2 linked regions of the Homo sapiens genome follow. The protein of the gene in region 1 purifies or fractionates together with the protein of each later gene. This does not show direct contact. Each region holds a gene or a part of one and is shown on either strand. Other genes may lie near its edges.

Region 1 (3,500 bases):
TCTCACATTTAGTTAGACTATTCCTCATCAGAAGTTACCGAGGAGTATTTTGTAAAATGGCAACCTATATTTTTAATAACATAAGCCCTGAATCTTAGTTCTTATTTAAGAGATGCATCATTTACAGATATATAAGCTCCATGAGGACAAGAGGGAATTTTGTTTTATTCACAGATCTCTCTCCAGCTCTTAGACTAGTGCCTGGATCATAGTAGGTGCTCAGTAAATACATTTTGAATAAATAATTGTGATTTGAGAGTTAATTTTTATGTAACACCAAATAAAACATAAATGCAACTTGAATGTTTATTACCCAGGTGATAATTATGAGACTTTAAAAAATTTCATTGCTAATTTGTTATTTCTGTTTCTTCTTTTTAAATACTTTATGCTGTCCAGTATGGAAGCCACAGCCCCATATGTCCATTTTTTCACTTGAAATGTAGCTAATAGGAATTGAGATGTACTGTAAGTGTAAATTACATACTGGGTTTCAAAGACTCAATACCAAAATACGTAAACTAGCTTATTCATTTTTTTATATTGATTACCTGTTGAAATGACAGTATTATGCATTTATTGGTTTAAATAGAAATTGGTAAAATGGATTTCACTCTTTTGGTCTACTATTAAAATGTAGCTACTAGAAAACTAAAAATTACATGTAATAGCTCGCATTTGTGGCCCATTGAACAGTGTTCATCTAGACACAGAAAATCTAGATATTGAGTGTAGACGAGAGGGAAGCTTTCAAAATAGGGCTTTGAATGAATATCTTTTATAGAAACACAAAATTATACAATGCAGCTGCGACTTGGGAAAGTGGGCATTCAGATGGTCTTGATCAAATTTAAAAAAAGGACCAAAACAAATTAATTAGATTATCTCAAATCAGAAATATGAAATGCAGCTACCAGATGGATTCCTGGCATAGTTGCCAGCTGGGTCTTGAGGTCAGAAAAGGGGCAGGAAGGCGTTGGTGGCTGTCCCAGTGAGCGGTCACTAATGGCAGACTGCAAAGCCAGTTTTTGAACTTCTCTGCCTGGACCTTACCTGAGCATGGTTGTAGTTGTGCCGAGCGACATGCTTAGTTGATACCATATAATGCTGGCGTTTTTCAAGCGTCTGGGAGATGGACACTTAGTAGAAGGGCGTAGGGAACAGGAAGAGGAGCACAGCCAAGGATCAGTATGGGTACTCTCAGGCAGGGCTGTTTTTCCCTACTCATGCGCATAGGCAACTTGTCCCTCTTCTGAATCTTAAGCTGATAAAAAGTTAGCACCAACTTCATCGCCACTTCTCCAAGCTTGATCTGACTCTGCCTCTGCCTCTGAGCTCAGTGGGCTTGCAAGAGAAGGTCACCAGTGGGCTAAGCCATCCACTCCCTCTGGGCTCACTTTTACCTGGAGCTGGCCTGGAGCCCCATCGAGTCAGTAGCATTTCTTCCCATAACAGTTGGCGGACCCTGGAGGATGAAGCTGCTCCCCAGGACACATATGTAGACGTTACTTTCCTTAAGCTAATTTGAAAGGTTATTTTGGTAAGTGGTTGGGCTGCATGGCTGGTTTAAGCTATTATCAAGTCCATTCCAGTATTTATTTCTTTGAAAGTTAGAATGAGCCTTGAATAAATGATGACTGACTGCTTAGCCTTCTTAGGAGTGTATTTAAGAATATTTGTTGCAACTGGCACTGGAGATGTCTACTTCTCTTTATTTTGGATTTTAAAATAGTTGTATAGTAAAGCAGCGTGTTTTCAGTAAAATAGCTTTCATGCTCACCTTATTTTCACCCATCTGACCTCTGTATTTGGAGAAAGTAGATCAGAAAATTCATGGCAGTTAGCGGCAGAGTGAAGAGACCTTTGACTTTAGTTGACAGCTGTCACCTGAAAACTACAGGCCTGGAGACCCTCTCAGGTGTTATGTCTGTAGTTCTGACAGTGAACAGGAATGTTGTTTACATTTTCTGTAAGCAAAATTCTCCCCTTGTTAGGAATGTGTTAGAATACGGCAGGCAGAAACAGAATTTTTATGTGTCTTACTGGTAAGTTCTCAGGAGTGTTGGTTAGCCCATTGTTCATTCCCATGCTCTTATGGAAGGGTGTCAGTAGAATTTATGACTGAGCCTGTTTTTATCATCACTTTGGAAATTCTTCAACAAGATATTGTTTTTTTCAAGTGAGCTAGTATCACACAATGCTTAATGTCCTTATAAAAGAGAAAAAAATGAGTTAAATTCCAAAGATGTTTAAGATTTCAGTCATTTTCTCTATATGAATTAGGTCTTTATTAGGCCGTTGATTTAATTAGTGTTCAACAAAAACACTTTCCTGTTTAGATTGTCAACGCATTCTTTAAATTAGTTATTTTAATCTGACACAGGATCTGTTAGGAAGAGTTTGAATAAGATGCAGCATGTTACATAGTGTACACAGTGCGCTGGAAGCACGTAGGGTGCGAACACAAGTGCCTGCCAACTTGTCTCCCTTCCTGCTTAGGTCCTGCCTTGTCCCAAAAGGACTTAAGGCAATGGTGAGGAGAGCATATTTTGAACTTTATTCTGTAAAAATAATTTTCAGTTTTGGAGAAAGTTGTATTTCTAGTTATGAGAATAGTTGGTGTCCACAAAGTATCCACTCAACTAGTTTTCTCTGAGTGGTCACGTGGGATTCTGGTCCACCAGAGCCCAGCATGCCTGCGGGTGAATAATGAGCCTGGTGATTGGGCTGCTCTGTGTCAGTGCAGACTGGGACCATGGTAGGCTCAGAGCCATGAGTGAAATTGGTCGTCTTGGACAATGAAAGCTTTTCTTTTAGTTTCTTTCTGAATCTTGTATATTTCTGCCATTAAACATAATGAAATTATGAATTTATTGTACTGTTCTCAAGGTTGCTTTTCAACATCATTATGAACACTTTCTTGTTAGATGCCTCTGTTGCAGTTACATAGTTGTATGTGGGCTGTAAATATCTAATTTGTATGAAATGACCGATTTTGGTATTTGTATAATCCTCTAGTCAATTTAACTAACTTGAGCTTTTCACAGCCCTTGGTGCTGCTGTTGCTCATCTGATTACACCGCTCAGGGGAATAAGGTTAAGGGCGGGCTGTTGGTAACCAGAGCATTTCCAGGGCTTTAGTTCAGCAGATGAGCTGCTTGGCTATATTCATACATCTGCTTGCCTGCTGTGGCAGCTGCTGCTGCTTCACGTTGTGTTCTTTTGTTCTGTTTCATCCAAGAATGGAACGCTAGGAAGTGTAGTGAATGGATTAATTTAAGGTTAAGGTTAGTGTTTTGCTTGCTTTCTAAGTAACCGATCATAATGATGCTTCTGGTAGAAGCTAATGAGTTTCTCTTAAAGTGAACTAAATTTATAAAATACAGCTCAGCGAGGGAGCTAGATTCGTATTGTTGATGGGGACCAAATTCAGATGTACAAAATACTGGCAGTTTTTATCATTGGATCCTAATTCTTTGTTTTCTTCCTTCTTCTCCCCC
Region 2 (3,500 bases), on another chromosome or scaffold:
ACTACAAGTACCAGCCCAGGCGGCGGAAGAACGGGAAGGCCGCCCAGGGCGAGGCGGAGTGCCCCGGTGGGGAGGCCGAGCAAGGTGGGACCGCCGCCATCCAGGCCCACTACAAGAGCGCCCACTTGGACCACCGGCACCCAGGAGAGGGCTCCCCCATGTCAGATGGGAACCCCGAGCACCCCTCAGGTGAGTGCTGATGACAGAGCTGAGGGTGGGGCAAGGCCAGTCAGTGGAGACAGGAGATGGCTGGATGGCAATGAGACCCTGGACTCTAGGGAGAGCGTGCCAGGCTGTGCAGTTGCCCCAGCAGAGCTGCAGGGGCCCAGAGGGAGCTCCATGGGGGTTCCGGTGCCAGGGGAAGTGGCTGGGTGAGATGGCTCTGGCCAGGGCTGATCCTACTGGGCAAAGAGGGCCAGTTAAAGACTGTGGAGGCCGCCGGGTGTGGTGGCTCACACCTGTAATCCCAGCACTTTGGGAGGCCGAGGAGGGCAGATCACGAGGTCAGGAGATCGAGACCATCCTGGCTAACATGGTGAAATCCCATCTCTACTAAAAATAAAAAAAATTAGCTGGGCGTGGTGGCGAGCACCTGTAGTCCCAGCTACTCAGGAGGCTGAGGCAGGAGGATGGCGTGAACCCAGGAGGCGGAGCTTGCAGTGAGCCGGGATCGCGCCACTGCACTCCAGCCTGGGCGACAGAGCGAGACTCTGTCTCAAAGAGAAAGAAAAAAAAAAAGACTCTGTGGAGGTCATGGAGTGAGAGGTGGCTGGGGCAGTTACAAGTAAAGGGGGAGAAGACAGGATGGTTTTGAGAAATGGAAGAGCAAATGGAGGAGAGGAAATCACTGCCTCTTTCCCACCAGCCATTCTTTTTTTTTTTTTTCTGGAGACAGAGTCTCACTCTGTCGCCCAGGCTAGACTGCAGTGGCATGATCTCGGTGCACTGCAACCTTTTCCTCCCGGGTTCAAGCAATTCTCCTGTCTCAGCCTCCCAAGTAGCTGGGACTACAGGTGCACACCGCCACGTCTGGCTCATTTTGTGTATTTTAGCAGAGACAGGGTTTCACTATATTGCCCAGGCCCAGTCTCAAACTCCTGAGCTCAGGCAATCTGCCCGCCTCGGCCTCCCAAATCCCACCAGCCATTCTGACAGAGGAGACATGGCATGTGATACCGTGTCTGGCCATGGATGGGCCAGACATAAGCTATCTTGTTTAATTTTCATTAATGATAATAACAGCTAACCTTAATTGAGCAGCTACTCTGTTCCAGGCACTGTGCTAGGTGCTAGTTGCCTTATGTATACTAACTCAATCCTTGCAAACAATGTGATGAGGTACCCAAACTGCCTGGGCTCAGATCTCAGCTGTGGCAAGTTACTCTCATTTTACTGATGAGAAACAAACAGGAACTTCCCCAGTTTGGCTCCCGGGCATCTGCTTGGCACCACAGCTGCCTTGCCTGTGTTCCTAATGTACAGAAAGTGACACACACAGGTCTGCCACATGGGAAGTGCTCAGTGAGCAGAGCTCTGCCTTCAGAGGACACGCTCTGAGTCCTACTTTGTGTCAAACACTGGAGTGGACACCAGGGGTACTAACCAGAGAAGCCTACAGTCCCTGGCCTCAGGGGCCCATAGTCTAGAGAGAGGAGCAGGGATGAAAACGAGTGAATTAAGTACAGGAAGAAACAAAGCTAGGCATGGTGGAATGCGCCCGCAGTCCCAGCTACACAGGAGGCTGAGGTGGGAGGATCACCTGAGCCCATGAGTTTGAGACCAGCATGGGCAATGTAGTAAGACTCTGTCTTTTTTTTGTTTTTGTTTTTGTTTGAGATGGAGTCTTGCTCTGTTGCCCAGGCTGCAGTGCAGCGGTGCCATCTTGGTTCACTGCAACGTCTGCCTCCTGGGTTTAAGCGATTCTTGTGCCTCAGCCTCCTAAGTAGCTGGGATTACAGATGCACGCCACCACACCCAGCTAATTATTGTATTTTTAGTAGAGATGGTTTTTCACCGTGTTGGCCAGGCTGGTCTCGAATTCCTGACCTCAGCCTCCCAAAGTGCTGGGATTACAGGCATGACCCAGCACGCCCAGCCTCCTATCTCTTACTATATATATAGTATATATATAGAGAGAGAAACAAGTGCACAAGAAGTCTGTGTGAGATCCAGAGGTGGCATGGCCGTCTATCCCATCCAGTCAGGTCTCCAAGAACACCCCACTGCCCACCAGACTCTTGTCAAGGAAGGCTTCCAGAAAGAGGCAATGCCTGGGCTGCTTGGTACAATCTCTATTTTACTGATAAGGAAACTAGTTAAGAGAAGACTGGGGATTTGTCCAGACACAGAACCAGGATTCAAAAGCCTAGGCAGGTCTCTTGAAGTACAGAGCCCTTGGCCAATGCAGGACTTGGCGCTGCCTCTGGTCTGATGAAGGAGGCACAGGCCTGTCCTTGGGGAGCTCCTAGTCTCTTAAGACCATGGACATGTTCTGTCTCCATTGGGATGCCAGGCAGTCATCCCTCCCACACACGTGTACATACTCTTCACCTTCAAAGATTCAGGGACACACACACACACATCAGGAGACCCTGGACCACATACAGAGCAACCACCTCAGAATGAAACTGGACACAGACTTTTTCTCACCCTTCAAGGCCCCACCCCACTCAGACATCCTTCCCTGATCAAACCTTCCCCAAATCCCTGAGGCAGCGGGTGGACTCCTCCTCTGGTCTCCCAAGTCCTTGCATATTGTCACCACAGCACTTCCAACTCTGGGTGCATGTGGATCTATGGATCTATGACTAGACTATGAGCTTTTGGGAACAGGGATCCATTTTATTTACATTAGTATCCCCAGCACCTGGCACAGTACCTGGCATTTTGTAATGCTCCCTAAGAGTTTGCTAAATTAATATGTGAATAGGAAAGTGAACAGACAAAGGAACAAGGACCAGTTTTCTAAGTGCCCTCCCATGGAGGAAGGCAGCTCAAAGAACAACAGGGCAACACAGGCCAGCGTATGACGGGGCTAAGGGCTTGCCAGTGGGCTGGGAAGCAGGGTGGGCTCAGGAGGAGGGAAGGGTTGGAAAGGACACAACATGAGGCCAGGACAGGGAGCAGGCCCAGGCAACCAGCAAAGGTGAAACAGAGCACTCAGGAGCCTGGGCGAGCGAGGCTCAGCAAGGAAGACAGTAGGCATGGGTGTGGAAGCGGGGCTGGCAGAGCGCAAAGGCTGGGCCAGACCACCTGGACAGCAGAGAAGCTGATGAGAGGAAGAACTTTCCACAGGAAAGGTTTTTTCAGAATGAGGCAGGCCTCCCCAGGACCCATCCCTAAGATTTGAGAATTTCATAAACAACTAGAGATCAATCTAAGACACCAGTATTTAAACAAATGCTGTGGGGCGCAGTGGCTCATGATGGTAATCCCAGCACTTTGGGAGGCCGAGGCAGGTGGATCACCTGAGGTCAGGAGTTCAAGACAACCCTGGCCAA

Evidence for each region.
Region 2: the proteins of CHD7 (region 1) and SOX10 purify together in Homo sapiens (affinity purification with western blotting; one study listed by BioGRID). This does not show direct contact.

What each region holds. Positions count from the first base shown.
Region 1 is NC_000008.11:60,737,740-60,741,239, forward strand, and holds part of CHD7 (chromodomain-helicase-DNA-binding protein 7), read left to right. Parts: intron 1-3,500. UniProt on the Homo sapiens protein: ATP-dependent chromatin-remodeling factor, slides nucleosomes along DNA; nucleosome sliding requires ATP. Probable transcription regulator. May be involved in the in 45S precursor rRNA production.
Region 2 is NC_000022.11:37,974,556-37,978,055, reverse strand, and holds part of SOX10 (transcription factor SOX-10), read left to right. Parts: coding exon 1-189; intron 190-3,500. UniProt on the Homo sapiens protein: Transcription factor that plays a central role in developing and mature glia.